Linked DNA regions of Homo sapiens: all the other regions are reported to be linked to region 1. The links are microRNA targets in miRTarBase. Many come from high-throughput screens and were not tested one by one. Region 1 holds a microRNA gene; each other region holds the end of a gene's coding sequence.
What was found. The annotated mature microRNA hsa-let-7b-5p reads UGAGGUAGUAGGUUGUGUGGUU and lies in region 1 at 1,103-1,124, shown strand. An mRNA with a match to its seed (bases 2 to 7 or 8) in the 3' UTR can be bound and repressed. Matches are read on the target gene's strand: a 7mer-m8 pairs with bases 2 to 8, a 7mer-A1 pairs with bases 2 to 7 and ends in A, and an 8mer does both.

Region 1 (4,068 bases):
CGCCCACCGCGCCTGCCCGCCAGAATCCCTGTGCCCTTGGTGCGTGTGGCCTGCCGAGCCTCGAGCCCCTGTTCTCCTCAGCCCTCTTTCCTCCCGCGTCCCCAGGAGGTGCCTCTGGAAGCCACGGAGTCCCATCGGCACCAAGACCGACTGCCCTTTGGGGTGAGGTAGTAGGTTGTATAGTTTGGGGCTCTGCCCTGCTATGGGATAACTATACAATCTACTGTCTTTCCTGAAGTGGCTGTAATATCTGCGGTGGACAGAGCGTCTGGAACCCTGGCTGGGAGCGGGCAGGGCCAGGTTTGGGGGCAGCCTTGGCAGCAGTCGGGGGCAGGGGCCGCCTACACTGAGAAGTCTGACAGGCCTAGGTGCCACTTGCTGTGTGACCTTGGACAGGCCCCTGATCTCTCTGGGTCTCAGTTTCCTCCTCTGTAAAATGGAGGCAAATGAGGATGGAAGGAGATGCAGTGTGGAGCATCGAGGGCAGAGGAGAGCTGAGCCGACCCCACCCTCTGCCCCAGCCGCACTGAGAGAGGCGATCCACGCAGCTGTTTGTCTGACCTCTGTCTCCCAACACTCCCCAACACTCCCCCCGCCATCAGGCCCAGGCTCATGGGTGGCCCTGAGCCGTACCCTCCACTGAGCACCAGGAGAAGGCACCGTGGGGCCAGGGGTGGCCGAGACGTTTGGAGGTCACAGGGCTGCGAGTATTGGCGTTGCCCATCACCCCAGGTTCCCAGCACGTGCCCCAGCCTGGCCAGCTCAGTGGCAGGGCCTCTGCCTGTGGAGGAAGGGAGGCCAAGGCACCTTTCCTGAGCAGGAAGTGAGAGGAACAGCTCTGCATACACTGGGTCCCACATGGCACAATCTGAAGGCAGACAGTGGCTCCTCTGTACCTGGGGAAACTGAGGCCCAGAGAGCCAGGGACTTCCCAAGACCAGCCAGCAGCAGCTGCCCCTTCCTGGGGTGCCATCTCCCCTGTCCCTCCTGCCCTGCGCCTGCCCAGCCCTCCTGCTCTGGTGACTGAGGACCGCCAGGCAGGGGCTGGTGCTGGGCGGGGGGCGGCGGGCCCTCCCGCAGTGCAAGGCCGGGCCTGGCGGGGTGAGGTAGTAGGTTGTGTGGTTTCAGGGCAGTGATGTTGCCCCTCGGAAGATAACTATACAACCTACTGCCTTCCCTGAGGAGCCCAGTGACACGACCCCATGGGAGGGCCGCCCCCTACCTCAGTGACACGACCCCACGGGAGGGCTGCCCCCCACCTCAGTGACCTGCAGGGGGCCTGAGCCGAAGCTGGGTGGGCATCTGGGAGCTAGATTCAATAAAGCTGTTCTGACCATGAACTTGGAACTGGCCCCTTTCATTCTGGAAGCCCAGGGACTGGGCTCTGGGGCGCGTCTGCTGCGGGACAGTGTGGAGGCCCCTGGCCACGAGCTGTTCCAGGTCATGAGACTTGTCTGCTCACGCCTCCCGGTGCCTCCAGAGTCCTCAGTTGGCTCCGTGCTGTACCCTGGGCTCAGGATCCCAGGCCCAGCCCGTTCTCTGCCCTCTCGTGCTGCCTTTGAGCCAGGCGGGCTGAACACCGGGACCCAGGCCCGGTGGAGAGGTCCCCACGGGGCAGCCACCAAGGCCCCAGGTCAGCAGCTCAGAGCACTGCCAAGTCCTGGCTCCTGAGGCCACCTCCGTGCCTTAAGTGCCTTGACCAAAGTCTGGACGTGCCTGTCCTTCCGTCCTCCCTCAGGACAGTTTCCAGGGCACCCGTAATTCCTCTGACAGACTGCCATCCCAAAAGTGCACCCATTCTCCTGGGAGGCCTCAGGCCCTCGTCTAGCAGCTGCCGTAGGCTGGGCCCAGTGATCCCGCCCTGGGCATGTGGGGTGGGCTTGTTCATGCCTGGCCCAGCACCGAGAGCCCCTGGTGGGGAGGGGCTGATACAGCTGGGCCCACACCTCCCCCACCCAAGTGCCCATCCTCGCCCCTCCTGTTGACCCAGGCCACAATCTTGGCCCAGATTCCCCCCTGTGCCCTCCTGGCCTGCCTTGGTTCTGCAGGCAACCCCAGCCCTGCATGGCCACGTCTGGGCAGACCGGCACCCCTACCCTGACACCCATCTGTGCCAGTCCTGCACGGCAAACACCTCAGAGCCCAGGCCTGCCTACCCTCCCGGAGCTGCTGCCACCCTGTGGGCCAAGGGCAAAGGGACGTGGAGGAGGGGCCCAAGGGCAGGGAGGGCTTCCTAAAGCAGGGACCATCTGAGCTGGGTCTTGACAGCTGCGTAGGAGTTTGCAGCTGGAGATGAGTGACGTGCCCCATGGTCCCTTCTCCCATCATCCTCTGGGGCCAGAGTGGGTGACACATGGGCACTGTCCAAATCCCCTTCTTCACCCCATAATTAGTCAGCAGCCACATCTGGCCACTTCTGTCCTCTAAACACCATTTCCATCCCTCCCCACTCCCACTGCCAGGCCTCAGAGTCTCAGAGCAGCCCCCTCTGTCTCCGGAGCAGATCTCTGCTGACACCCTTGCCTGCACTGCCTCCCAGCACCCCTCCCTCATGCCTGTGCTCACCTCCACCAGGACTCTCCTGCTCACCACCGCTCCCCCACCCCTCAGTCCACGGCTCAGACCCATCTCTGGCCACCGCAGCCCCTGTCTGTGTCTGAACAGACTGTGAACGTCCCGAGGAGCCAGCCTCTCCTCCCAGCCCCCATACTGTGTAGTTGGAGCAGGGTTTGGCCCTGCAGAGCTCAAGGCCTGGTCGGGGAGCTGCCAGGGACACACAGTGGCCATGTGTTGGGGTCAACATCACAGTGGAGCAGCCCAAGGGCTGGGGAACCCTAAGGATCCCTGGACCCAGCCCTGCAGTCAGAGGCAGCTTCCTGGAGGAGGTGATGCCTGGCTCACCCCACTTCCCTCCCTACCCTCCAGCTGACCAAAACCTTCCCTGCTGACTGGCCGTCCCTAGAGATGGGGTTGCCAAAACTCGCCCAAAATATAGGATGAGGGCAGCCTGTGGAAGTTCTGGGGGTGACAGGCCTAGATTGGTCACTCTGCTCACCAAACCTGTTTCCCATCTCGCAGTGGGGTCACCGTAGCTTCCACCTCCCAGGGCGCCCATGAGGATTTAAGCTGATACCAGATCAGAGTGCCCAGGGATGTGGATGAGTTGCCTTGAGAACAAAGTCCAGGGAGGAAAGCCGGGGACCAAGGACCTTCAGGATGGCCCCAGCTTCCCGGGCTGTGCGGGAGCCACGTGCCACGGACCCCTCCCAGCTCAGGCAGTACCGCCAGAGCACAGCCTTACCCTACAGAAGAAAGGTCGGCGTGGCCCTGTCCTCCGAGGAGATGAGGGCTCAGAGAGACTCGAGGGGGCTCCTGGGCTGTCCAGAGTGGGCCCTTTGAGAGACCCCTGGGCCCTAAGGTTCAAGTAGGCCACCGCTGACCTTGGCCTTCCTAGGAGGGATGCAAAGCCAGCCCACCACTTGAACCCGGCAGCCTGAGCACCGAGGGACAGGGCCGCCATCCAGGGCCAGGGCTAGGACAAGGCCAGCAAGGTGGCAGACACGGAGCATCTCGGCCGGGGGGCCTTTCTTGGGTCACACATCAGCACGGGGCACAGAGGTGAGAGCCCAGAAAGAGTCTTGTTTCCATTTCTTTTAAAACGGGAAGGGAAAATGACCCCTCCAATACTGAATATATAATGTATAATGAGTATATTATAGACTGGTGTAGATGATGGGGTGAATATAGCGCGAACCCAGCCTGGGTTCTGGGTGTCTTACCACCCCAGTCATGGGTGCGGTTTGTGATTTTGTTGTGAATTGTGGAGGAAGGGCCCAGGAGGGCCACATGCCCTGCCAGGGAAGCCATAGAGAGCCCTGCCCCGGGAGGTCAGTGCCTCCTTCAATGCCTGCGATCCCTCACCCTGCCCTGCTTCCCCCACCATCCGCCCCGCCTGGGCAGCCTGGGCCACTGCCCGCCAGCCACCCCCGCCTTCGGACTGTGCATTTCCCGACAGCGACACCGTGTGGCAGCAGCCCCCACCTCCGAGGCCAGCCCCGCCTGCACCCC
Region 2 (4,068 bases), not on the chromosome of region 1:
TCCTGGTGGCAATGACCTGAAGGGGCGGCCCCTGGAATCTGAGGGCCAGCATTTGCTGTCCTTTGAGGTCAGGCCTCAGCCAGTCTCAGGAGGGTCTAGCCTGGGCCCCCACAGAGAAAGGCATCTATTACTGCTCTCTACAGTTGTCCCTCATCCTGAAGTCCGGCCCTTCACACCCCATCCCCAGTGCCTGGGACACTGCATGACACACAGTCAGCCCCCAATATGACGTAACTGAAAAACTGAAAATAATGGATTTAGGAAGATGAAAGAAGTTCTGGAGATGGATGATGGCGAAGGGTACACAACAGTGTGAAAGTACTTAATGCCACTGAATGGTACAGTTTAAAATAGTTAAAATGGTCCAGGCGCAGTGGCTCACACCTGTAATCCCAGCACTTTGGGAGGCTGAGGCGGGCGGATCACCTAAGGTCAGGAGTTCGAGACCAGCCTGGCCAACGTGGTGAAACCCCATCTACTAAAAATATGAAAATTAGCTGGGAGTGGTGGCAGGTGCCTGTAATCCCAGCTACCAGGGAGGCTGAGGCAGGAGAATAGCTGGAACCCTGGAGGTGGAGGTTTCAGTGAGCCAAGATCATGACATTGTCCTCCAGCCTGGGCAACAAGAGCAAAACTCTAACTCAAAAAAAAAATAAACAATAAAAATAAAATAAAATGGTTAAAATTGTAAATTTCACGAGGTATATTTTCACACAATGAAAATAAATAAATAAACGGATGAGATCTAGTCTCATCTTTACCTGCTCTCTCATTAATTCTCCTCCAACCCCCTGACCTCTCCTAGGCTGTCTCTTTTTGTCAGTTCCTGTTCTCTAAACAGGGAAAGGGCCCCAGATTCCCTCCAATCTCTATGATCCCTTTCCAGCTGGTATTACCAGGCCCTTGGCTTTTTTTTTTTTTTTTTTTGAGATGGAGTCTCGCTCTTGTTGCCTAGGCTGGAGTGCAGTGGCACGATCTCAGCTCACTGCAACCTCCACCTCCCGGGTTCAAGCGATCCTCCTGCCTCAGCCTCCTAAGTAGCCGGGATTACAGGCACCTGTCACCACACCCGGCTAATTTTTGTATTTTTAGTAGAGACGGGGTTTCACCATCTTGGCCAGGCTGGTCTCGAACTCCTGACCTTGTGATCCACCCGCCTTGGCCTCCCAAACTGCTGGGATTACAAGCGTAAGCCACCACGCCCAGCCAAGGCCCTTGGCTTTGATTCCAGCTGTACCCTGCGCACTGTCAGCAGCCATGAACCCCCAGCCCAGGTGTCCGCCTGAGCCCCAGCGGGGACCCTAACAGGCGCAATGCAGTCAGAACACAGCTCCCTCTTCCTTGACCTTCCTCCCGTCTCCCCTTCTCTGTTAACAGCCGTTCCCCCAGATGCTCCGGTCTAACATCTAGGCGGGCCCTATGATTCTCATCTTCTCTAGCCCCAACTTCCAACCCATCAGCACATCCCACAGCTCTTCCTCCAAAGCACACCCTAAGCAGCCCAAGCGGCCCTCTTCCCTGCTCCCCACTGCCATGCCCTCGCAGCCATCCTGGCTTCCTGCCTGGACTGCTGCAGTGGCATCCACCCCAGCCCTCCCAGCCATTCCTTCTCCTCACAGAAGCCAGAGCGATGATCCTAAATGAAACTCAGCTCAGCACATCCCAGCTCCAAATCCTCCCGATCCAGCACTCCCGGGTCACTGTGCACATTCCTCCTCCTTGATCACAACACCCCCAGCCACCTAGCCCCTGCCCACCCACCTCTGCCTCATGCTGGAGGCAGGGCCCACCCTCACCCACAGCCACCAGCCTTCTTCCTGTTCCTTGTCCCACCTCAGCACCTCTGCCCCTGGCTGTCCCTCTGTCTGAAAGCTCTCCTCCTGAACTTCATGAAGCCACATTCCCAACTTGGCCTCCATGTCACCCCTTCTGCAAGGCCTTCCTATCCACAACCACTGAAGCGGCCCTGGCCACTTTCTCCCACTCCTCAGATTCCTTGGCCAGCACCACCGCTTTACCTACACCCCATCCCTGGAGAGGCCCTGCTCACTACCTGCTACCAGCTCCTAGGACAGGCCTGGCTCAGGGGCGCTGTGCAGCAGGGAGGGGTGGGCGACCAAACCAGTGGAAACTCATGGTCTCACAAACGGAGCCCATCATTTGGAAAGGTGCCAGCAGGCAGGTGAAATCCATGGGGGGAGGGGATAGAGTGACAAAACCACTACGGCTTATTGGGGGCAGGGGGCGGCCTAACTGAATGGTGACTGTGGCCATTACTCCCCCTGACTCAGGGCTTGCAGCAGGGACATGGACCATGTGTGTGCAGGAAGCCTGACCTTTAGAGACACAGCCCAATCCTCTGCCACCATCCCCAGCCCAGCTGCGCATAGTGTGAAACAGTCCTGCAACTCACCCTGAAGGAGTGGGGGAAATGATTTGAAAGTCACAAAAATATATTAAAACAGCAGCTGTCTTCACTCTAGGCACTGGCCTCCCTTCCCAGTGCCCCTTGCCCACCACCCGCCATACACTTTCAGAGACAGATGCCCAGGGCAGGAAAACGGATGCGCCTCAGCCGCAGCCCAGGGTCTGGAGAGGTCCCTCCAGCCTGGGAGTAGAGGGCGGCTAACAGTCTCAACAGGCTCGACGCCACCGCCGACGAGGGGGCCGCTGGGAGGCCGGAGGTACAGGAGGGTCGGGCAGGACGCAGCGGACAGTCGGGCCTTGCCACGGGGACAGAAAACAGAAGAGAAATGAACAAAGTGAAGACAGGGAGAGAGAGAAGTCACAGCAGTGGGGGGAGGCGCAGAGGAGTGAGGGAGGTCAGTGGGGAGTGGGGGAAGGGAGGCCCACCAGGTGACACCCACTTAGTTGAGGGGGACAGGGAGGCTGATGAGCTGGGGTCTGAGGCAGCAGACCCTGCTCAGGGGAAGAAGGGGAATGTAGGAGAGGAAGAAGCCCCCTGGCACTTGGGAGAGGTAGAAAAGTGGGTTCTGCCAAGGCCACAGCCAGAGAAGAAAGCACAGAGGACATGAGAGAAGGGGAGTCCTGGAGCAGGCCAGGCCAGCTGCGACGACCATCCCAGGCTAGGAGAAATGGGGTGATCCCCCGAATGCTCGGGCCTAGCTCTAGAGCCCGAGGGAGACAAGCTGTGTCATCCAGGAGCTGGTGGGAGGCGTGATGAAGCCAGGAGCCTGGGGCGGCCAGGGCAGATGCCCGCAGGCTCTGCTGCCTGCACCCCGCCCACAGGTGGGCTAGAAGGTCCTGCGGCCCAGTCTTTTGAACACGCTCACAGTGCCCGCGTGGTCCATCTGGGCACCAAGGCCCTCGCTGGAGCTGCTCCCCCGGGGCCCCACCAGAGTCCTCTTAATGGTGACCTTGACCTCGGCTGAGGACTTACTCTTGGTGCTGGTGACCTGGCTGTCCTGGGCCTCGGGCACAAGGGCAGCTGCGCCCAGTCTCTTGATGATGCTGACTTTAGACAAGGACTCCGGCTTCCTCTCAAGCCCAGACCGTGAGGAAAGCGCCAGGCGCCGCAGTGTCGGGGCAGCAGCCGTTGTCGCTGAGCTTGTGGCCTTGGCTTTGACAGTCAGTGCTGGCTGGGGACTGGCCTTGGCTGGGCCCCGTCCTAGCTTCTTCAGGACCCCGGCATACTGCAAGACAGAGCTGCTGCTGTCATTGTCGCTGTCCCAAGCCAGATCCTCGTCCGTTTCTGGGGTGGCCCCCAGGCGGCTGAAGACTCCTGTGGGCTGTGGAGGTCAGAGACAGGATGAATGAGTCACTGAGTCACTCAACACACATTCATGGAGAGCTGCTTCCTCTGTGCCTGGCCTCCTGGGACTCACAGTTGGGAGAAACACCCATCACTGACACCCCAGATAGTGGCGAGAGCCATGATGGGGGAGTCCAGGGGACTGGAGGAGCCCAGAGGAAGTACCTGACCTTCCTAGAAGTTCAGGGAGGGCGCCCTGAGAGGGGGGACATCTGAGCTGGAAGTAGGTCTAAGAAAGAGGGAAGAGGACGGGAGTGCCGCACAAAGGGAATGTCATTTGCAAGGTCAATAGGTGG
Region 3 (4,068 bases), not on the chromosome of region 1:
TGCTCATAAAAGCAGCTCATAGAGACACCATGGTTTGTACTCATTGGACTGGAAAGAGGCCTATAGCGTTCGTTAGGAGACAATGCTAGTTTCTTTGATATTTTACCCAGAAATGCAGCCTGAATTTCATCTTGTTTTGGAACCTCTTATAGAGGTCAAAGCAGGAACTAGTACATTTTGAAATGTGCATTGCTGTGTTCATAGTCTACCATAACCAATTGCTGATGTACGCTTTATGTTTTTAAGATATATTACCAAAGAAGATTTTAGCTAGTAAATACCTGAAAATGCTTAAAGAGGAAAAGAGGGAAGAAGATGAGGAGAATGACAATGATAATGAAAGTGACCATGATGAAGCTGACTCCTAAACCAAAAGTGCTTTAAAAACCAGCCTGGCGAGGACAGCCCTGGACCCACTCCACTGTCTCTAAGTAAACACAGCACTGCCCGCTTTTAGCGTCTTCACTTCTTCACAGAGTTCCAGTGTGTGGTATTCTTTCGAGGTATTCTTTCCAGGCCGAGATTGAGCACCTCATGTACCTACGCCACAGACAGCCAGAGGGAAAGCGACCCAGACAGCAGCCCCTCCTCGACAGGCCCACCCTGCAGCTCAGGCACCAAGAAAACAGCCGATACTGGCAGCCATTGCAGCTCCAAACTGCAGAGGCAAGGCCAATTTTAACTTTTCAATTTACAGTCGATTTTGAAGAGCTTCTACATATCGGTTATGTAAATTCATATATGTATATTTTGGAATCAGTTCTTATAAACAGCTCGATTCAGTTTTAGCTAAATTTATAGTTTAGGTAGTATGTTACATTTGAATTTTTGTCTTAAGAAAAGTTGACTGTTCAGATATTTTTCTACTGTAAAGAAATATACTTTTCTATTAAAGATCTGTACATATTTTTACAGTAAAATGCTTTATGGAACTAGTTTTAGAGCCCTCTATGGCTTTAAGGCCTTGCTTACTGCCTGCAAATTTTGAGAAATTTAAAAATAAGCATTCTAACACTTTTATTCCCACAGAAAAATTCCAAGTCAAATTATCAAATCAAATACAAAAATAAGTCTTACCTCTTGTATAAGCATGTTGTACTAAAAAAAAATTTTGAAACATTTTGTATATTGGAGATCTCTCTCATCTTACTGTTCTTTGCTTTAAATTCCTGGCACTTCTTTTTACTGTCTATAAGAGAAAACCTATCATAAGCCCAATTTTTTTTTTCCACTTAGGGTAAATGTTTGGCTCCTCTCATTTCATTATCTTTTTTTTTTTTTTTTTAAAGACAGATTCTCACTCAGTTGCCCAGGCTGGATTGCGGTGGCGCTGTCTCAGCTCACTGCAACCTCCGCCTCCCAGGTTCAAGTGATTCTCCTGCCTCATCCTCCTGAGTAGCTGGGATTACAGGCGTGTGCCACCATGCCCAACCTATTTTTGTATTTTTTAGTAGAGACGGGGTTCACCATGTTGGCCAGGCTTGTCTCAAACTCCTAACCTCAACTGATCCACCTGCCTCAGCCTCCCAAAGTGCCGCCGGGATTACAGGCGTGAGCCACCATGCCTGGCCTTCATTATCTCTTTTTTAAAAATGAAAAAGTTTATAATTTACATTCAGTAAAATCACCCTTTTTAGTGTCTAGTCTGTGAATTTTGACAAATGCATGGTTTTGTAACCAATCGATAGGACAGTTCTGCCACCCAGGACATTCCCCTCTGTTCCTCTGTTCCTCTCTTCTCCTGCCCCCTAGCAACCACTGGTGTTTTCTGTCCCTCTTGTTCATTGACATTTATTTTAAAATAAAATATTTTAAAATCTACTTTTTGGTGTACAGTTCTGAGTTTTGGCAAATGCAGTCAAGTCACTACCACCACCACAATTAACAGCTATATCACCCTCCAGTAAATTCCCTGTGGTCAGCTCCTTCCCCACCTTTTACCGTGGCAACCGTCAAGCTATTCTCTGTCCCTATACCAGGTGTCATCAAATTTTTTTCTGGAAAGGGCCATGCAGTAAATAGTTCAAGCTTTGTGGGCTTTTATAGTCTCTGTTGCTGCTGCTGAACTCAGCTGTTGTAGCACGAAAGCAGCCAGGTAATTACTAGATGAAGGAATGCAGGTGGCTGTGTTTCAATAGAGCTTTATTTCTGCAAACTGAAACTTGAGTTTTGTGTAATTTTCATGTGTCATGAAATACTGTTTTCTCCAACCATTTAATAATGTAAATACTTGCTAGCTTATGTGCCATTAAAAAATGACTTGATTTGGCTTACAGACCAGTTTGGTGGCCTGTCTTTTCCAGAATGTCATATAAATGGAATCATTCAGTATGTAGCATTTGAGTCTGCAGTTGTTCTGTTTAGCAGAATGCATTTGAGATTCATCCGTGTTGTCACAGGTATCAGCAGTCCATTCCTTTATATTGCTGAGTAGGATTCCATTGTATGGATGTATCTGTTTATCCATTTTCCAGGTATATGGATAATTACCCATTTAGATTGTTTCTAGTTTTGATGATTGTAATTTTTTTTTTTTTTTTTTTTGACAGGGTCTCACTCTGTCACCCAGGCTGGAGTGCAGTGGCATGATCATGGCTTACTGCAACTTCCGCCTCCTGGGTTCAAGCGATTCTTGGGTCTCAGCCTCCTGAGTAGCTGGGATTACGGGCACGGCGTCACCACACTTGGCTCATTTTTTTGTACTTTTAGTAGAGATGGGGTTTCACCATGTTGGCCAGGCTGGTCTCGAACTCCCGACATCAAATGATCCGCCCACCTCGGCCTCCCAGTGATGGGATTATAGGCATAAGCCACCACACCTGGCCTTGATGACTATAATTAATAAAGCCCTATAAGTATTTGTGTACAGGGTTTTTGTTTGTGTTTTTTGAGATGGAGTCTCGCAAACTCTGCTGCCCAGGGCGGTGTGCAGTGGCGCAGTCTTGGCTCACTGCAACTTCTCCTATCTAGGTTCAAGCCATCCTCCTGCCTCAGCCTCCTGAGTAGCTAGGATTACAGGCGCCCACCACCACACCTGGCAAATTTTTGTATTTTTAGTGGAGATGGATTTTTGCCATGTTGGCCAGGCTGGTTTCGAACTCCTGAGCTCAACCAAGTGACCCGCCCACCTCAGCCTCCCAAAGCGCTGGGATTACAGGTGTGAGCCACTGTGCATGGCCTGTGTACAGGTTTTGTGTGAACACGGGATTTCATTTTACTTGGGTATATGCTTATGAGTGGAATGCGATACAGACGTTTATAAGAAGAAACTGCCAAACTGTTTTCCAAAGTGGCTGTGCCATTTTGCAGTCCCACCAGTAGTGAGTTCCAGTGGCTCTGCAGCTCCTACAAAAATTCATGTCAGTTTTTGTTGAGTTTTGAGAGATTTATATATTCTTAATACAAGTTATTTGCCTGATAGGAGATTTGCAAACATTTTCTCCCAGTCACTTTTCATTCTCTTAATAGCATCTTTTTTTTTTTTTTTCGAGACTGAGTCTTGCTCTGTCACCCAGGCTGGAGTGCAATGGCACGATCTCGGCTCACTGCAACCTCCACCTCCCAGGTTCAAGTGATTCTCCTGCCTCAGCCTCTCGAGTAGCTGGGATTACAGGTGTGTGCCACCATGCCCGGCTAATTTTTGTATTCTTAGTAGAGATGGGGTTTTACCTTGCTGGCCAGGCTCGTCTTGAACTCCTGACCTCAAGTGATCCACCCACCTCGGCCTCTGAAAGTGCTGGGATTACAGGCATGAATCACTGCACCCAGCCTGAAGCATTCTTAAGGCACCATAAGTGTTTGAGATCCGATCATTCAGGGAACACTCACCCTTTCAGTTCCTCCTTGAACCGGGTGCCAGGTTGTTACAGTAGCTTCCTAAGTGGTTTCCTCACAGTGCCTACAGCCTTTCCTCTTTCCACCTTGCATACTGCTGTCAGATTATCAAAATGATTTTATGAAGATGAATCTTTTGCTCTCGCTTGCAAGTGTTAAACCATTACTGCTTCTGGCCATTCAGTAAATGATGGTGAAATAGCGAGAATATAACAAAGGCCATATCAAGTGAGT
Region 4 (4,068 bases), not on the chromosome of region 1:
CCAACAACGTACCACCAGAGGTCCACTCCCAAATAACGCTCTGTGTCTTCCAAAGGGCCTTACAACCAAACCAGCACACCTATCCAAAACGCAGCTTCCACACACCATGGCTCTGTGTATTGAAAGGAAGACAAACTGAATGAAGTTCATAAAATAAATTCCCCATCTCACTCATTTGTCAGAGGGAATATCTGCCAGTATTCTCTGCAATACAGGACTCTGCTTACCCGATTTCTACAGGGAGCTCTGGACTGCCTTCCTGATTCCAGCCTCTGTCAACCTTTTCTCTCCCTCCCTTTGCCAACATTAAAAAAGAAGTTAACAAATGGATCTAATTACCACAGTGGTTTGAGGCTTCTCAACGTTTTTTTTTTTCCCCTTCCAGCTGTAAAGATGTCCTCAGACTGAGCTTCACATTCAGAACTGCTGTCAAACTCTCACTTTAAGGGGCACTTAAATTTAATGTCAAGCTGATGCCTGCGGAAGACCTTGATTAAATTTGCAGAGTAGACTCTAACTGAAACAGAACTTTAGAGTTGTCTCATTTCACCCTTCAAGCTTAAATCCCAGAAGTTTTCTTCTCTTCTTTGTAAAGAATTACAAAGTTTGCTTGCAAAGACCCTGAGTATCAATAAGACAGCAAAGTGTAACAAGCAAAACACCCTGCATGCTTTTAGAGACAGAAGAAATCCCTTAGCTTATTAAAATTCTATGTGAATTAAAGATCTTTCCCATTGCTTTATTCCATTCCCAGCTCATTCGAAATCTATAACTATTTACTTTTATGACTCTATAATATTATAAGCAGTCCTAAAAAGTTTACTTAAAACCTTCCTAGTGTTCTTTCATGCACATGGCAATTAAGTTTTGTACTGTATGGACAGAGTGAAAAACATTATGGAAAAACAACTTGAAAGAAATGTGACAGAATTTCTCCTAACAATGTCATTGCTTCAACCAGCTACAAATTTCCAACCTAGTTTCTTTCTTTTGCTGTTTCTTCTTTTGTCTTTGATACAATCATACAGCCTCTCTTCCTTGAAGAGATAATAAAAGACTAACAGTTAAAAGATCTGGAAGACTCATATTCTTTTCTTTTTCACTGGCTACGGTTTTGAAAAGAGGCTGTTGGCTTTTGATTTTTTCTTTTGGGTTCTTTACATCGCCCAATTCAAACAGGTCTGCTCTCAAAGAAAACAAATCAAAATTGTCAAGACCTGTGAAGCATGAAAAATAAATTGCTTTTTCCAACTCCAAAAAGCACCAGAAAAGCATTAATTTTGATCTTTTATAAACCTCTATCCCCTATCCTCTAATCTATAGATTTCACAGAATGTTTATATATTCTTCTGTATAATACAGGAGATCAAACCTTATTATGAATAAATTGAATTGAACCTGTAATACAACTAATATTTAAACTAGTGTTATTTTGGAGTTCAACTAGACACATATAAAACATTCAAGTGAGATGACACAAATTCCTGGGGCTGCCAGTATAAAATAAACAGTCCAGTAAGCTGCATCTACCATGCCGTTAAGGACTCTGTCCTTTTAGCTGGTGGGAGCACAGGCTTCATAAAAGAAGGAGAACATGAAGCAGTAGAAAAAGACAGCCTTGCAAAATGCTGCCAGATACAAAACATTCTATCAGAAAATTTCTCATTGAACTACAGTGGCGAGAGTGCTTCTAATATCTCCCTTCTTTTAACACAGCGAAGACCTACATTTCTATGCTCGGCTTTCTAAAGCTAACTTAATTCTGTGGTTAAAACAGCTCCAGGTAGCACTTGTTCTTTTTTTTTTTTTTTAAAGAAGGACTTGTGGTTTTGCAGTCCATGGATAAAGTGGTAGGCAATCATCAGATTCCTGTTGAGAACGACAAATGATGAAGGGAGTAGCAGATGGTTTCAGAAGGCAGAGATTTATAGGGGTAATTTGTAGTGGAATAATACTATTTTCTGAACTAGGTAATAATAATTCACCAAGACAAGTAAAAGTTTAGATAGATAGTATCTCATTTAATTATATGTTGCTAAATATTCCAAGAAATCTTTGACTCAGAAGCCTAAAATGAAAACTCAATTAGTTGACATTTTTAGTTTCTGATGATCTGATCCTGTTTAATCCTTTTCATCATGATGCAGTTTATCACATGATTAAAAATATGGTGCTGCTAACAGTCTAGTTTTCTGAATACAATGTGCTCTTTTCAATTTAGTTACTATCTGATTCAAAAGGATAAAAGTATCCCTCTTTACCAGGAAAAGAAGACAGAAATAGACGAATACTTTTCACATATTCCAAGGTAATAGATGAGGAAGAACTATGTTTCAAACAGGGTTTCCTGAGCACCCCAAATCCTATTGGTGAGTGAGTAGAGCCCCAGGAGGAAATCACTATTTAGATGAGGGTATCCACAATGGCACTGCTCCACAAGGCATACGTGCCAGGGATCATCAACTTCACCTTACTCCCTTGACAAAAGCAGGCAGAGAGAACAGGGCATTGATCTCGTATGTTTGTAATCATCCACAACATTTATTAAATTCTATTGCTGGCACTGAAAGGAGGGGGTTACTATAAGTATCACTATTCATTGCTCAAGTAAATTAATTTAATTTACCAAATCTATTTGGTAATTCACAGCAACTACAGAAGTAATAAGGTATGGAAGTTGGAGGGTAAAATAAACACTTTATTTTATATGTACAACCTTCTTGCTTGGTAATTGTCTATTCTTCATGAACCTGTCCCCAGAGTAATGGCAGCAGATAAGACGTGCCATTATTTTACATAATAAAATATCCCTATTATTCCTTAATAAATATAACTGGCTATACTTTATGTTAATTCCCAAGTCACAGTTCACTCAGGAGGGTCTGGTGCCACTCAAAGGTGCCTGATGTAGAATAACCACAAATAGGTCAACTCTTAAAAAAAGGTAAAGAAAAGTTTAAAATCTTCATTAGTGATCAGCAGTGTGTTGGATACTCCAAATTACCATTTTAAAACTGAAGTAATGTCCAATCTGTTACGACATAAGACTCTCCCAATTATACGCAGACACTGTCATGTACACTTTGATATTTATTAACAAAAATGGTCCAGAAAAGGATTGAGTCAAAATTACAAAGTGATTAAGAGTTAAAACAAAAGTTGTTCTTTATTGTAGTTTCTGGGGGACTTTAACCAGTCCCCAAAGCTGTTTTTATCTCCTAAAATAGGACTTAAATGACATCACTCAAGTGACAGATTTTAATAGAAACTCCTCCTCTTTCCTTCTGTCAAAGCAAAATATAGTGAAAGTCTCTGTTGTTACCTCAAACCTCCTTTCCTAATAAGTGTGCATGCCTGTAGATGGATTGGGATGCAGTGAAGAGAGAAGTTAAACAAAAAGGTTAAAAAAAAAAAAAAGGCCAGGCACAGTGGCTCACAACCGTAATCCCAGCACTCTGGGACGCTGAGGTGTGAGGATCGCTTGAGCCCAGGAGTCTGAGATCTGCCTGGGCAACATAGGGAGACCCCCCACCTCTACAAAAAAAAATTGAAAAAAATTATCTGGATATGAGGTGCACACCTGTGGTCCTAACTACTTGGGAGGCTGAGGTAGGAGGATCACTTGAGCTGGGAAGGTCAAGGCTGCAATCAGCTGTAATTGTGTCACTGCACTAAGCCTTGGTGACAGAGTGAAACCCTTTTTCAACAACAAAGGCAAAATCTTAAAAACAGGAAACAGGCTATTGAGGAAAAAGGGTTATAAAACTGCCTAAGAATCTTCACTAAAGTAATCTTCTAGTCCTTCCATATCCATTTCCAGAGAGGAATTTAAAGAGGCCAGAGCAGATGATGCATCCTTGGTTTTCTGGACACTTGGTTTGGGTTGAGGAGTTTCTGGTTGGATAGGTTCCTTCTTTATGTCTTTACCACCATTTAGAATACGTTGGCTCTCACAAAAGAACTGATTAGGATGATTCAAAGAAAAGCCACAATCATCCACCTGTAAAGGAAGGAAATTTATATTGCATTAATGCATGGCAAAGCTATAAATATATGAGTTTCAAAAGC
Region 5 (4,068 bases), not on the chromosome of region 1:
GGAATGCTGACAAATTCCAGATATAAGGGAAATGACAGCACAAGGAACACTGACCTACAGATAAACTAGATACTGTCCTTCACAAAGATGCATGGGGAGTTAGCAAACTGAGGAAGCTGTGGATATGTTAAGCCCTTCATCTTGAGGAATATAATCTATGTTTAAAAAACCAAAGCTAGTGGCTGAGCACGGTGGCTCACACCTGTAGTCTCAGCACTTTGGGAGGCCGAGGCAGGAGGATGACCTGAGGTCAGGAGTCCAAGACCACCCTGGCCAACGTGGTGAAACCCTGTCTCTGCTAAAAACACAAAAATTAGCCGGGCGTGGTGGCGTGCACCTGTAATTCCAGTTACTCAGGGAGCTGAGACAGGAGAATCACTTGAACCCGGGAGGTGGAGGTTGCAGTGAGCTGAGACTGCGCCACTACACTCCAGCCTGGGCGACAAGAGTGAAATTCCATCTAATACAAACAAACAAAAAAAACAAAAAAACAAAACCAAAGATAGTATAGCTATATTTCTGTTTGGGAAGGTTTACCAGGCAAGGTAAACTGTCCCTGAGCAATACAAATTTGTTGTCCAGAGAATATTTTGGCTTTTAAAATATTGGCAAAGTTACACTCAGATACGAGTTTTGTTTGGTTTTTTTAAGAGTTAGCTCAATATCAGGGACATTGTAAATTAATTTTATAACAATAATCTGGTAGTATTTCTCATTGGAATTATCTACTTTAGTAATATACATGTGCCAAGAACACTAATAAGACAAAATATTTCCTAAGAGTGACAAAAAGTTGCTTTTTCTCACTAATTTTTTACTGCTGCACACATAGGTATACTGGCATTTAATTAAAGCATAAATGTTAATGCCAACTTGCTAAATGATATGCGCTGGCAATGTAATGTAACAAATGCAAATTCACATCAGTCTAACACTGTATAAACATACTCATGCATTTGTGTACTGATAGTACAGTCAAATAAAATGATTCATATTTTGACAAAAACTAAACTTGGAATGGAGGGCTCTGTGAAAGGCAGACTTGGGTCTTCAAATATCTCCGTATGTGAAATATCAGTATTTATACATAATCAGTTTTTAAAGGCACACATCCAAAAGCTCCCTTCATCTAGATCTGTCATTTTCTCTATCTAATATGCCAAAACCCACAGAATATCCCAGAGTTCTCTCAGACTTGGTGGTGGTTGCAAACTTCTAATGACTACTTATATTTGTAGAAAAACCAGTACCATTATCAGGACACTTCCTTTTGAACTTTCCTGCTTAAAAGACCTCAACAGTTGTTTTAAGCACATACTACTGCAGTAAATCATAGATTTCAAACCACCTGGCAGTAAGCAAACATGTTTAGAAAATGCCACTTTGCCTGCGGAAAAGAGACTATTGATAGAGTTCACGGCAATCTGCAGCAGTTTAGAAAAGAATGAAGAAAGTGGTCTAGTTCTCCTAATAGAGAGTAGTTTATAGTTGTAGGTCAGAAATAGGGGAAAAGACACTCTAAAACTTAGAATCAACAGGGATTTCTGCCACATCACTAAAAAGTACTTATTGATCTACATTCTTAATAATTGTTTCCATCCTGCAGGGTTTTTTCTCCCACATTTACAATTTTTTTAAGTTAAAAGGGAATATGTATTGTAAAATGAAGTATAAGGGAAAATCAGATCATTTTCTCTTCATAAAACACAGAGAATACTTAAGTAGAGTGCTCAAGCACTTATCTCGAATTGCAATTTTATTTTTCAAATACGTAAGAACCTAGAAAATCAACTCAGCACTTACTTCCTAGATACCTGTGTTAGGAAAAGTTCTACATCACCACATTTCCTCTGTACCTTTAATAATTCAAACTCAATAAAATGCTGCTTTAGGATTCCTGAAAGCAATTGTATTTGTGCAAAGCCTAAACAGGAAAACAAAGTGGATGACTTGGCATTTGAAGAATGAAAAAGCCAAACAGCACTGTCACAACCATTTCTGCCTTCAGTCTCCAATGCCTTTTTCTTTCATTATAAAATCCATAGAAATGGCAAGGAAAGATATAGGAAAGTTTATCACAGATACAGTAGCTATTACAGAAATTTGGAATTCAGCAGATGTTTTAAGTCAAAATTTTCTGTGTAACAGATGAATTTGCAAAGTTTTGAAAACACAGTCCACAAAGTAATTTAAAATGTGATAATTAAATTTGTTTTAAAAAGCAAATTAACACCTTTTATTTTCTGTGAAGATAAAACAATAAAAGAAAAATGTTCATATATCCAAACCTATGCTGGAAGTACACAAAAAGACAATTTGTATACATTACTGGCAATAGTCTTGTTTTGTACAGGATATTTTACAGAATATCCATTGTTAAAAAAAAAAAAAAAAAAAAAAAAAAACATAGCCGGGCGTGGTGGCTCACACCTGTAATCCCAGCACTTTGGGAGGCTGAGGTGGACGGATCACGAGGTCAAGAGATCAAGACCATCCTGGCCAACATGGTGAAACCCCATCTCTACTAAAAATGCAAAAATTAGCTGGGCATGGTGGCACACGCCCATAGTCGCAGCTACTCAGAAGGCTGAGGCAGGAGAATAGCTTGAACCCGGGAAGCAGAGGTTGCAGTGAGCTGAGATTATGCCACTGCACTCCAGCCTGGCTACAGAGCGAGACTCCATCTCAAAAAATAAAAAATAAAAACAAAAATAAAACATACATGACTCTTGATGGTACATTTCTATGCTGGCAAATACATTTTTGGATACAAAGGCACTTTGAAAACCCAATATGGTTTGGTTCATAAGTTTGCAAGGTACAAACAATTTAACAAACATGATTATACTGAAGAACGTCAACAATTATGACATTACGTATAGCACAGATTTCCAATTTCTTTCTTTTTTTAAAAAAAAGTAATACTGGTTTTGTGGGAATGAAAGCAGTGATTTCCAGCAGCTGCAGTGAAGACATTCCAGAAGACTGGAGGCCCACAACTGAAATTCTTACTGGCTGGGATGAGAGGATGGTGGTGTGGGCATTCAACATGAAAACAAACAAACAGAAAACAAAAACAAAAAAAGAAAGACAAAAGGACAAATTAACATCCTAAGCTAAAAACCTCAGAAGTCAAAAAGATTTGGAGGAAAGAGCACAAAAGAAAAGACCAAAAGTCCAGGAGATATCCTCTTAAATCTGATCCCTTAGCTGTGAACTCCCCACAAAGCATGAACGGCTGACTCTACCCCGTCTACTTAGTGCTCGGGAGTTGTAGTGATAATTTCTCTCTTTTAAAAAGCTGGGTACAATGTTTTGGATCGTACAGTACCAGAAAAATTTGGTCCATAAAAGGTGCATAATTTCTTTCCATTCACTACATGGCTGCAAAGTCAATCTGTACGTAGAGCTGTCTCACTCCAGCCTGAAAAGTAAGAAAAAAAAAAGTTAGAAAATCTAACAAGCTAATAACACCCTACACATTTCAGGAAAGTATTTTTTTTCTTTTACAAATCTCACTTTTTTAAAAAAAGAAAAGAATCATTTCAGAAACAAATATATTCATAAGCTACAAAAAATAATCTCCATTTACCACTACAAAAAAACAAACAAAAAAAAAAGAGCCATGTTAACAGTCACACACCCTATCCAGATATCCAGGTGATACTTAGAAAAATGCAGTTCACCTTCTACAGTTACTCTGTTAGAGGACACCATGATGCTTGACTGGTTGGCTCCTAGTTGAAATTGATACATCAACCCTGTCTAAATCCTCCTGTGATAAATGATTAGTAAACAATTTAGCAAGTATAACCATCTATTGGAATTATTTTGCACTCCAAGTTCTCTCTTCTGTTTTGGATATGAACTTGCTACTCAAGGATACTGCTCTCTAAATTCTCCCCAATATCTTCTGTATTATCAATTTACTTCCTCTCAACTAGATCACTTCTATTAGCATACAAACACACTGTAGCTGTTTCTATCTTTGAAAAAACCTCATGAGAAATTATCTTTTGGGTACAATGTACACTATTCAGGTGATAGTTGCACTAAAAGCCCAAACTT
Region 6 (4,068 bases), not on the chromosome of region 1:
TGAGGTAGGAACAGCTTTGGAAAATAACACACAGTCATGAAAACATACAAAAAGTTAGGTAAAATGTTGCAGCACTAAAGATATTTTATCTGCATCTGTATTTAATGAGATGATAACTGCATTTAACTGGCCCACATCTGGCCCAAAGGACAGGCAACAGAAGACACAAAACAACACAACATATAAGTTTCATAATCACAGAATATACTGATACACTTCATTGTGCTGTTTCAAGGCAGAACCATAACATGGCAATTTGTGTCTTTTTATATATATATATAACCACATATTAATTGTATGTTACATTCCCTCCAGCATCTTTTTGCCAAAGACACTGGACCATAAAATTTTTGGTTTAAAAGTTTAAATTGAATAACATACAAAAGGCTCTTGTGCCAGTGAAAATGACTGCTAAATATTCCAGAGCTTGTTAGTAAAACAAAATAGCATTACCACATAGTATCGGTAGAGCTACATCAAAATAGTGCTATTATAATCCCAATTTCAGAGACGTGAAACACTGTATGACACAGTTTCAATTTTAAAAATGACAAACAAAAAACCCCTACACCTTCCCAAGAGTTTTAACACTGTTTATGACTTAACTGAAACTCAGTATTAAAATAAATATTTTTATATTGTAGAATTACTCTCCATATTTGTGTGAACATCTTAAGACAGCAGGTTAATGACATTTTTATCATTCAAATGATATCTGCTTATACACAGTAAAAATCTTCAACTCAACACCAGTTAACATACGAAATACTTCACATTAGGTTCCATAGGTCTTTTCCCTCAAAACTGTCAAAAATTCAAAATTAACTTAAGGATGTTAATAAGACACAAACGGTTAACACAGCCTTCTACCTACTGTGATTTTCCAAGGTGCATTTGATGGACATTTTTCCTATTCAAGTTACATACCTTAGTTATTCAACATACTGTTCTCTAAAATGTTAAAACACATACAGCAAAGTTTTTGAGGATTCTGTTTTTTAGGTTTTAGTCCATAGTTTTACAATGCAGACATCCTTCAGAAAAAACTAAGCAATCATAAAAGCTAAAAGGTGACAATGGAGAATTAAATCTCTCATCACTAAGGCTGCATTTGGCTTGGAAAAATTTCTTGGTTTTAATTCAGGCACATGCAGCACCTCCTTTTCACTAAACTGAGACAACAGACAAGTTTCTAAACACATATTCTACACTGATCTTGCTCAAATATAAAAGAGCCAGCAGGAGAGATGCAACTCCTAAAACTGATGCAGTGTTATAAAATAGCATATTTAAATATTGGGTTTAAGTCTCCTAATAATTCAGAGTATTTCCCTCATTTTCTTTCAGAAAGGAATAAGCTATTTTGAGAAAGACACTTAAATCCTACAATATTTAAATACAAAAGCATGTCTTTTTTAAAAGATAATGCTAATATAGCTACAATGGGTTAGAAAGTGCATTGTAAAGAAATAAATAATTCTCTGCTAAAACTCAAAAGGTGAGTCAGTGCCCACTGTTTCTGCCGACAGTCATTTGAAAAAAGAAAATCCTATGGTACCACCATTATATATAAGCTACTTAAAAATTATGAAAAGTGAAATAACTCAAACCTAAAGGCTGTTATCTTCAAAGCACTTTTGAAAAACAAACAAACATAGCCCTTGTCCTATGCTTATATACCATTTTTTAAAATCCTCATTCAGTTGATGTCTTGTACTTAGGTGTCATGCCATCTTTAAGACACAGACCTCAAGTAGAGCATTTGTAAAGAAAACCTCATTGAATGTAATATATTTTATCAGTTATCTTTGTATCATTGCTGAAATGTTTATGTAACAAATTGATATCTGAATAAAATGTTCTGTAAAGTATTAAATCAGGAATGTACATGATACAGTACAATTCACAGCTTTCTCTTCTTGTTCGCCCAGATGAGATCCCTCAATTTCATGTTTAAAAAAAACCACCCAAACCTTTTCGCAAAATTCAAGGTAACTATCAGTTTAGGAATTGAATTACACAATATCAGATAAGAATATTAAAAGATCAAGATGTATTGCAAACTGGCAGGTTATGGTTTTGGCCCATTATAGTAAATGTGAACTTACAAACTGTGTTCCTAAAATTACCATATTTTCACTGGAAAAAATCAGCTGTTCTTAAATAGGCCCATCGCCAGCAATAGGCTTATACTAGGAAAAACACACACCACAAAAGATCATCCCTTTAAAAAGTAACTGTCAAATCCTAACACTTTTTCCTCTTACAACCCATTAAACAATGAACTATTTTAAATCCCAAAACGTAGCCATCCCAAAAGTAGTCAGCTATAAAAGTAGTCAGAATACCTTGTTTCTAGAAAAATAGAGCTATACATAACTGATGCTAATATTAATCCTTTCAAGGACAAAAATCTAATTTTGTCACAAAGCATACCCTCTATCAAGAAAAATATAACTTAAACACCCTTAAATATTTGTGTTGGATTTGAAATCTATAGCAATAATGAAATAGCCACAATTTTCTGTGTAGATATTGTGGCATCTTGCAAAATAAGCCACTATTGGAAGATCTGAGTATGTGAAGACAGGATGACTTACAAAATCTTAATTAATTTTGCTTTAATTATTAATTTTGCTAAGAATTTAATATCCAAACTGCATTAACCTTCTGGTTTTCTTTCCTCTCAAGTCAGTGACTCTTAGAAAGCACAAACATTGCTGGTTGTGCTCAAAAAGCTCCATTTAAATCCATTCATGATTGGTTATCATGAAATGACCTTGAAAATTTTTTTTCAAACGCCCGGTTTAAAAGATTACATTAATCGTTTGCGTTTAGCATGTAATTATTAGGTGTCAACATCCTTAAAAATACTTATATATTTTGTAAATAAACTTGCAGCTCAATGTTTTTATACCAATCTTTCAAAGAAAGTAATGCTGGTGAACATGTCCAAGTTTCAGATTAACTTTGGTAGAATAAAAAGTTGAAATTCTCAAAATAATTTAGAAATGTAGTCTCAATATTATCATACAATAACCTAAATATTTAGTTTGGTAAACTTTCTTCCTTGCTCTTACTACCCCATTTGCCCCATTGTGTGTAAACTGTAGTTCAATTTGTTAATTATCTTACTGTTTAATAGCCAGCAATACAGAATACAGGATAGTAACTGATCTTATTTCCTACTAATAGCCATGAGTCACTCTTAAAATATGCTGCCATTATGCTATGTAATGATCTCAAAGGGCAATATCACCTAAAATGTCAAAGGAAACAAACTGTTGATGATTTTAAAGTTCTATCAATTATAATTCTAATAAAGTATAACACTGGGGGAAAAGAAAAGCAGAGAAATTCCAGTAACAATTTTATTTATCCCCCTAATTTTTATCATGGGAAAAATCCAGAAATCAAATGTCATTATGTTATATAAGGTTTAACTTACTTTAAACAAAAATGTAACATAGTGTTAAAACTGGCTTTCCAAAACAGTCACAGCATAGCTGTACTCTGTACTAATAATCACAAAATTGTAATATAGAACTCTGTTATGCAGTCCCATTATGTTCTTACAAAAATAGAATTAAACTGTGTGACCAGACAAGGACTTCAATTACACTACTTGGCAAACTTAGAATTTCAGTGGAGTCTTTTTCCTCTTGCAGTTTAAAGCAAAAGTCAAATATCACATCTTTTTCAAGACTCACAAAGATGATTCAGGTTGTTTGTTTGGCATGTTTTTAATCTCTATCACAACAGCAGGGATGTTTTCAGCTTTAGTCCTCCTGGGCTTCTTCTCTAGATTGTTACTAAGTTCTAAACAAGAAATGCTAACTGCTGGGGTCTTTTCTGCATCCTTTCCAGAAGGGGCTTGTGGTAGTGTCCCACAACATTGCTTCAAAGCACACTGGGTTCTGCAGGCAAGTTCACACGGAACTACACTTGATTTAGAGCCTACACTAGCAAATTCAGGCTGAATGGTAGTAGCGTGAATTCCGTGATTATGAAAAACGTCTTTAATGGTTTTAGCCACCTCCATGTATGATGTTGGATCTTCACATTTTA
Region 7 (4,068 bases), not on the chromosome of region 1:
ATTCCAGCACCTTGGGAGGCCGAGGTGGGCGGATCACCTCAGGTCGGGAGTTAGAGACCAGCCTGATCAACATGGAGAAACCTCGTCTCTACTAAAAATACAAAATTAGCCGGACGTGGTGACGCATGCCTGTAGCCCCAGCTACCCAGGAGGCTGAGGTTGCGGTGAGCCGAGATCGCGCCATTGCACTCCAGCCTGGGCAGCAAGAGCAAAACTCCGTCTCAAAAACAAAACAAAACAAAAAACACCAGCATTATTTTCTCCAGAACCTCCTGTACATTACCAATATTTTAATTTCAACAACGATCTCAGATTGCATACTAAAAGGTAAAAGTGCAATTCAGTAATCTTTTCCAAAAATGTTTTATTGCTACAGGTTGAAATTTTTCAACCATCAAAATTAGAACAAAATTTAAGTTTCTGCTCACTATGGTGTAACACAGCCATTTCGTGGGACTTTGTTTTTAATGTAGGTTGGCAGTAGAGTTCAGCAAAGTTTAGATGATAGCAGAATGGTATCATGAAACTTTGTTTATAACTTAAAGAAGTGGGGCATTAGCTAGAATAGAAAGACCGCCTTCTATTTGAAAGGTCAGTCTTTCTTTGAAATCTCAAAGATTCATTTCAAAATTTAAGGCTTTAATTATCTGACACAAGTATATACCTATCTTGCAACAAAGTCCAATATTTTACATTACAGCTTTTCCCAAATACTATACATGGTAACTGAAATATTCTTAGAAATCATACAAGACTTCCCTGAACTTACCACAACCTACCTGAATCTGGACCACACTTTTTTTGATCTCTTCATAAAGTCACAGCTTTCATTTCACAGCTCTAATAGCAATACACCATGGAGTACAAACAACACTGTGAAAAACAAGGGCCTGATAAAGCCCACAGCAAAGCTATTCACTAATATTGGCATTACCTTTAGCCATGCTATTAGAGATCACACTTTATTTTTGTGCATAATAAATACGATACAGAAAAATGTTGAAAATATATGACTCAACTATCTAATTAAAGCTGAGTAAACTAACCTAGTCAGATTTTAGTTTTTCAACGAGAAATGACAAGAGTAGCTGAATATAAAGAAAAACAAAAAGAACTTTACTTTCCTATGTTAATACAGGTCAAGAGACCCTTTCTTCTCAAAAGGGTTGGTAACACCAGTTCTTAGCAATAAACATAAGGCACTTGTTTAGATTACAACATCACTCCATTTTTTCCACTTGTTTTTCTAACCCTGTTTTTCCCCCACAGTATCATTTGAAATTAATAGGATGAATGAGGCAAATATGAGACGATCCAGTTGATACTACTCAGAGCAAGATAGTACAGTACAGTGTTTCAGGGGTGATGTCTGGACATAAAATGAACCCAGTCAAGGTCCTCTGACACCAATGTATCCACTATCAAGTAAACCTGAAAGAAAATAAAAGATTTATTCAATAGTTCCAGTAAAATTGGGTTGGAATACAATACACATTAGGAATTTAGCTCCTCACGGGTGGCATCTGCATCTTAAGAGTTCTGAGTACTTATGAATATTCATTCTAAGACAATCTACATCATTTGAACATTGTCAAGACAAATAAATGAATTTCATTTCAATATACAGTAGAGTTTAAACAAAATTCACACATACACCCCCTATTATATGGCTGGTACCTCCTCCAAACACCTCATTAGTGGCAGAGGTAGGACTAGTGTTCTTTCCCAACAATAAGAACTTCAGTTGCCACTCATAGGAGTTGAAAAAAAGTTTTTGTTTTTTTGCCATCTGTTAAGATGTTCCTGAGACAGGGCCAGTTAATAAAACATAACAAAGCACTGGAGTTCGGTTTGTACTTCTCTTTACATCACTACTAAACTGTTAGACTGAGATGTGGAATGCAGGTCATGTACTATGAAAAGTTGATTGTAGCACAACTGTTCAATCAGTAAAAGGTCTTCGGCAAATTCCCTTTAGAGTATACTTTCTATAAACTACATGTTCCACAAAAAGGTCAATTATATATACAATTGATTTGTTTTACTTAATCTTATTTGCTCAGATCTTGCAAATGCAATGAGAATATTAAGCCTGAGGCTAGTTCTCAGTGTATAGGTTTAACAAATTAAGGCTCATTTTCCCAAATCAAAATAGTTTTTAGTTTTCCTTTTAAATTATGAATTACATTCATAGTACCTGCCACCAGCCTTGCCCTCAATGAAATCTTAATGCAGGAGCAGCATTCTACTTCATTATGGAATTTCCCTGACACCAGCACTTAGCCCCTTCTAAAAAGCTCCCATCTGCACTAGCCTTACAGCATATTACATTGCCTCTGGCTTGCACCTCTGTTTCCACCTGTGTATTTCACAGAAGCCCAACACAGATTAGTTGAAATATTCACACAACTGTTTTTCAAAACAATTTATTGCATCATATTTGGTACCTTATGTTTGACAACAAAAAGGAAATTACATCTGTAACTGCAAGAAAAAGAAGCTGGTCTGTTATTTGAAAAAAAAAAAAAAAAAAAAAATCTTGGGCCCTTTAAAAATTACAAAGTCTTGGGCTTGCCTGAAACAACTGAGCAAGAAATATATTCTTAGAAATGTAGGGCTTCAAGTATTACAAACCTGTGACACTGTGGAAAAATTCCAGAGGTATCTAAACTGCAGCACTTTTTTTTCTGCATATCGTGAACAAGGCCTGCTGAGGTTTTTAACTATTAGTCTTTTGATCAGTCATAGAATGGTAGTCAGGAGTTCTGCTCTTTAACTTCAAGCCATGGTAGATTTTCCTTTTTTCACTCTTGGGTGAAAAATTCATGCTTGCTAATTAGTTGGTGCCACATCACAGTGCATTTGGTTCTTGCATTACAGTTTTAACAAGTTTGGCCAAACAATGCTGAAAGGTTTGCATTGTTGTTTTAGTTCTTCAAGTTTTAGTTAAAATTGAGACTGTTACAACTGGTTCCTTCAGTTAAAAACTGTGGTACAAGAACACCAAACTGATCATGTACAGTGAATTTTGGAAACACAAGCGTATTGAACACCTTATAGGTTTCTTATAATTTTGCTTGGTATCTATATGTCCCAGTTTCTACAACATCAAGCATCTGTTGTAGGTTTCTCTGTAAATAGTGATTCACATTGCATACTTCCTATGGTCAGAATCAACCCCGTAACAAAATCAGTCAGATGCTAAAGCCCCAACAACTCTTTGTGCTCAGTGAAAGAATCCAGTGCTAAAACAGCATTTATGCTGTCTGAGATATAGTAAAATCTCACAAGACAAATTTAAAGTAATATTTCTGCCACACACCTGCTTTGTTAGCTGTAACAGCCTCCAGATTTTATATAAATTAGTTTAAAAACATGGGTGGGTGGGGAGGAATAGGATAAGGTATCTTTTTTAACCACTCAATTTTAGCAGCTTTAATTTTTTAAGAAACTGAACCTCTATCCTGTAATGTTAGATATTTTATATATACTTTTTCAGCAGGATAAAAAACGTAAAACACTATTTGAAGGCAAGAACATTTACTCCTCTCATTCTGTGTAAGTTAGAGCAATGCAGCAGGTGCGTGACAAAAATATTATATACTAGATATGGTCCAAAGTCATTCCATTTGCTTGTTTAGTGATGTTCAAATTTCATTGGCCAGTTCTTCAGCTTCTGCAGAACTATCTCCATTAACTGTGATCTTCATATCCTCTTCATATCCAGGAGGCATGAAAGCCAAAGCATAAGGGAAAAGCTTATGACAATTTGCTCTATAAATTTCAGCAGCTTCTTTACAGTCTCCTAGGCTACCATCATACAAGGCTTCCAATACCTCCATACATGTCTAAGGAAAGAAAAAAAGTCATGTTGTAACTGGTCAAAAAAAGGTTCTTACTGGGAATTTATTAGACATTTCAACAGCAAGAGATTTCTAAAATAAGAAATAAATACACATATTTAGCTATTTACTCCTGCATATGCATTCTATTAGAATGTTCTTCAAGGCCTAATTTAACCATTTCTCCAGAATTGCAGGATTTATACAAAAGGCTAAACAGGGATGA

Region 2: miRTarBase lists C19orf47 as a target of hsa-let-7b-5p. Seed matches in the 3' UTR shown: 7mer-m8 at 2,976-2,982.
Region 3: miRTarBase lists CHRAC1 as a target of hsa-let-7b-5p. The part of its 3' UTR that is shown has no 7-base or 8-base seed match.
Region 4: the mRNA of PRIM2 is a reported target of hsa-let-7b-5p. Seed matches in the 3' UTR shown: 8mer at 3,606-3,613.
Region 5: the mRNA of SLC30A7 is a reported target of hsa-let-7b-5p. The part of its 3' UTR that is shown has no 7-base or 8-base seed match.
Region 6: the mRNA of SLC30A1 is a reported target of hsa-let-7b-5p. Seed matches in the 3' UTR shown: 8mer at 1-8.
Region 7: the mRNA of NAA15 is a reported target of hsa-let-7b-5p. Seed matches in the 3' UTR shown: 7mer-m8 at 1,704-1,710.

The regions. Positions count from the first base shown.
Region 1 is chr22:46,112,589-46,116,656 of GRCh38, forward strand. It overlaps MIRLET7B (microRNA let-7b), which reads left to right and starts at 1,098; the gene lies at 1,098-1,180. LOC124905135 (collagen alpha-1(III) chain-like) reads left to right here. Exons shown (of 2, transcript XM_047441696.1): 2 at 1-1,340. MIRLET7BHG (MIRLET7B host gene) reads left to right here. Exons shown (of 5, transcript NR_110479.1): 5 at 1-1,340. It overlaps MIRLET7A3 (microRNA let-7a-3), which reads left to right and starts at 161; the gene lies at 161-234. It also overlaps MIR4763.
Region 2 is chr19:40,318,628-40,322,695 of GRCh38, forward strand. It overlaps C19orf47 (chromosome 19 open reading frame 47), which reads right to left. Exons shown (of 9, transcript NM_001256441.2): 9 at 909-3,749. The coding sequence ends at 3,255. Among named protein-coding and RNA genes, the nearest start is that of C19orf47, 28 kb to the right of the region's middle.
Region 3 is chr8:140,514,880-140,518,947 of GRCh38, forward strand. It overlaps CHRAC1 (chromatin accessibility complex subunit 1), which reads left to right. Exons shown (of 3, transcript NM_017444.6): 3 at 247-2,275. The coding sequence ends at 368. Among named protein-coding and RNA genes, the nearest start is that of CHRAC1, 5.6 kb to the left of the region's middle.
Region 4 is chr6:57,645,860-57,649,927 of GRCh38, reverse strand. It overlaps PRIM2 (DNA primase subunit 2), which reads right to left. Exons shown (of 14, transcript NM_000947.5): 14 at 3,078-4,000. The coding sequence ends at 3,770. Among named protein-coding and RNA genes, the nearest start is that of TRI-AAT1-1, 150 kb to the left of the region's middle.
Region 5 is chr1:100,974,166-100,978,233 of GRCh38, reverse strand. SLC30A7 (solute carrier family 30 member 7) reads right to left here. Exons shown (of 11, transcript NM_133496.5): 11 at 1-3,424. The coding sequence ends at 3,377. Among named protein-coding and RNA genes, the nearest start is that of DPH5, 50 kb to the left of the region's middle.
Region 6 is chr1:211,571,682-211,575,749 of GRCh38, forward strand. SLC30A1 (solute carrier family 30 member 1) reads right to left here. Exons shown (of 2, transcript NM_021194.3): 2 at 1-4,068. The coding sequence ends at 3,707. Among named protein-coding and RNA genes, the nearest start is that of SLC30A1, 5.4 kb to the right of the region's middle.
Region 7 is chr4:139,387,664-139,391,731 of GRCh38, reverse strand. It overlaps NAA15 (N-alpha-acetyltransferase 15, NatA auxiliary subunit), which reads right to left. Exons shown (of 20, transcript NM_057175.5): 20 at 348-3,848. The coding sequence ends at 3,648. Among named protein-coding and RNA genes, the nearest start is that of RAB33B-AS1, 64 kb to the left of the region's middle.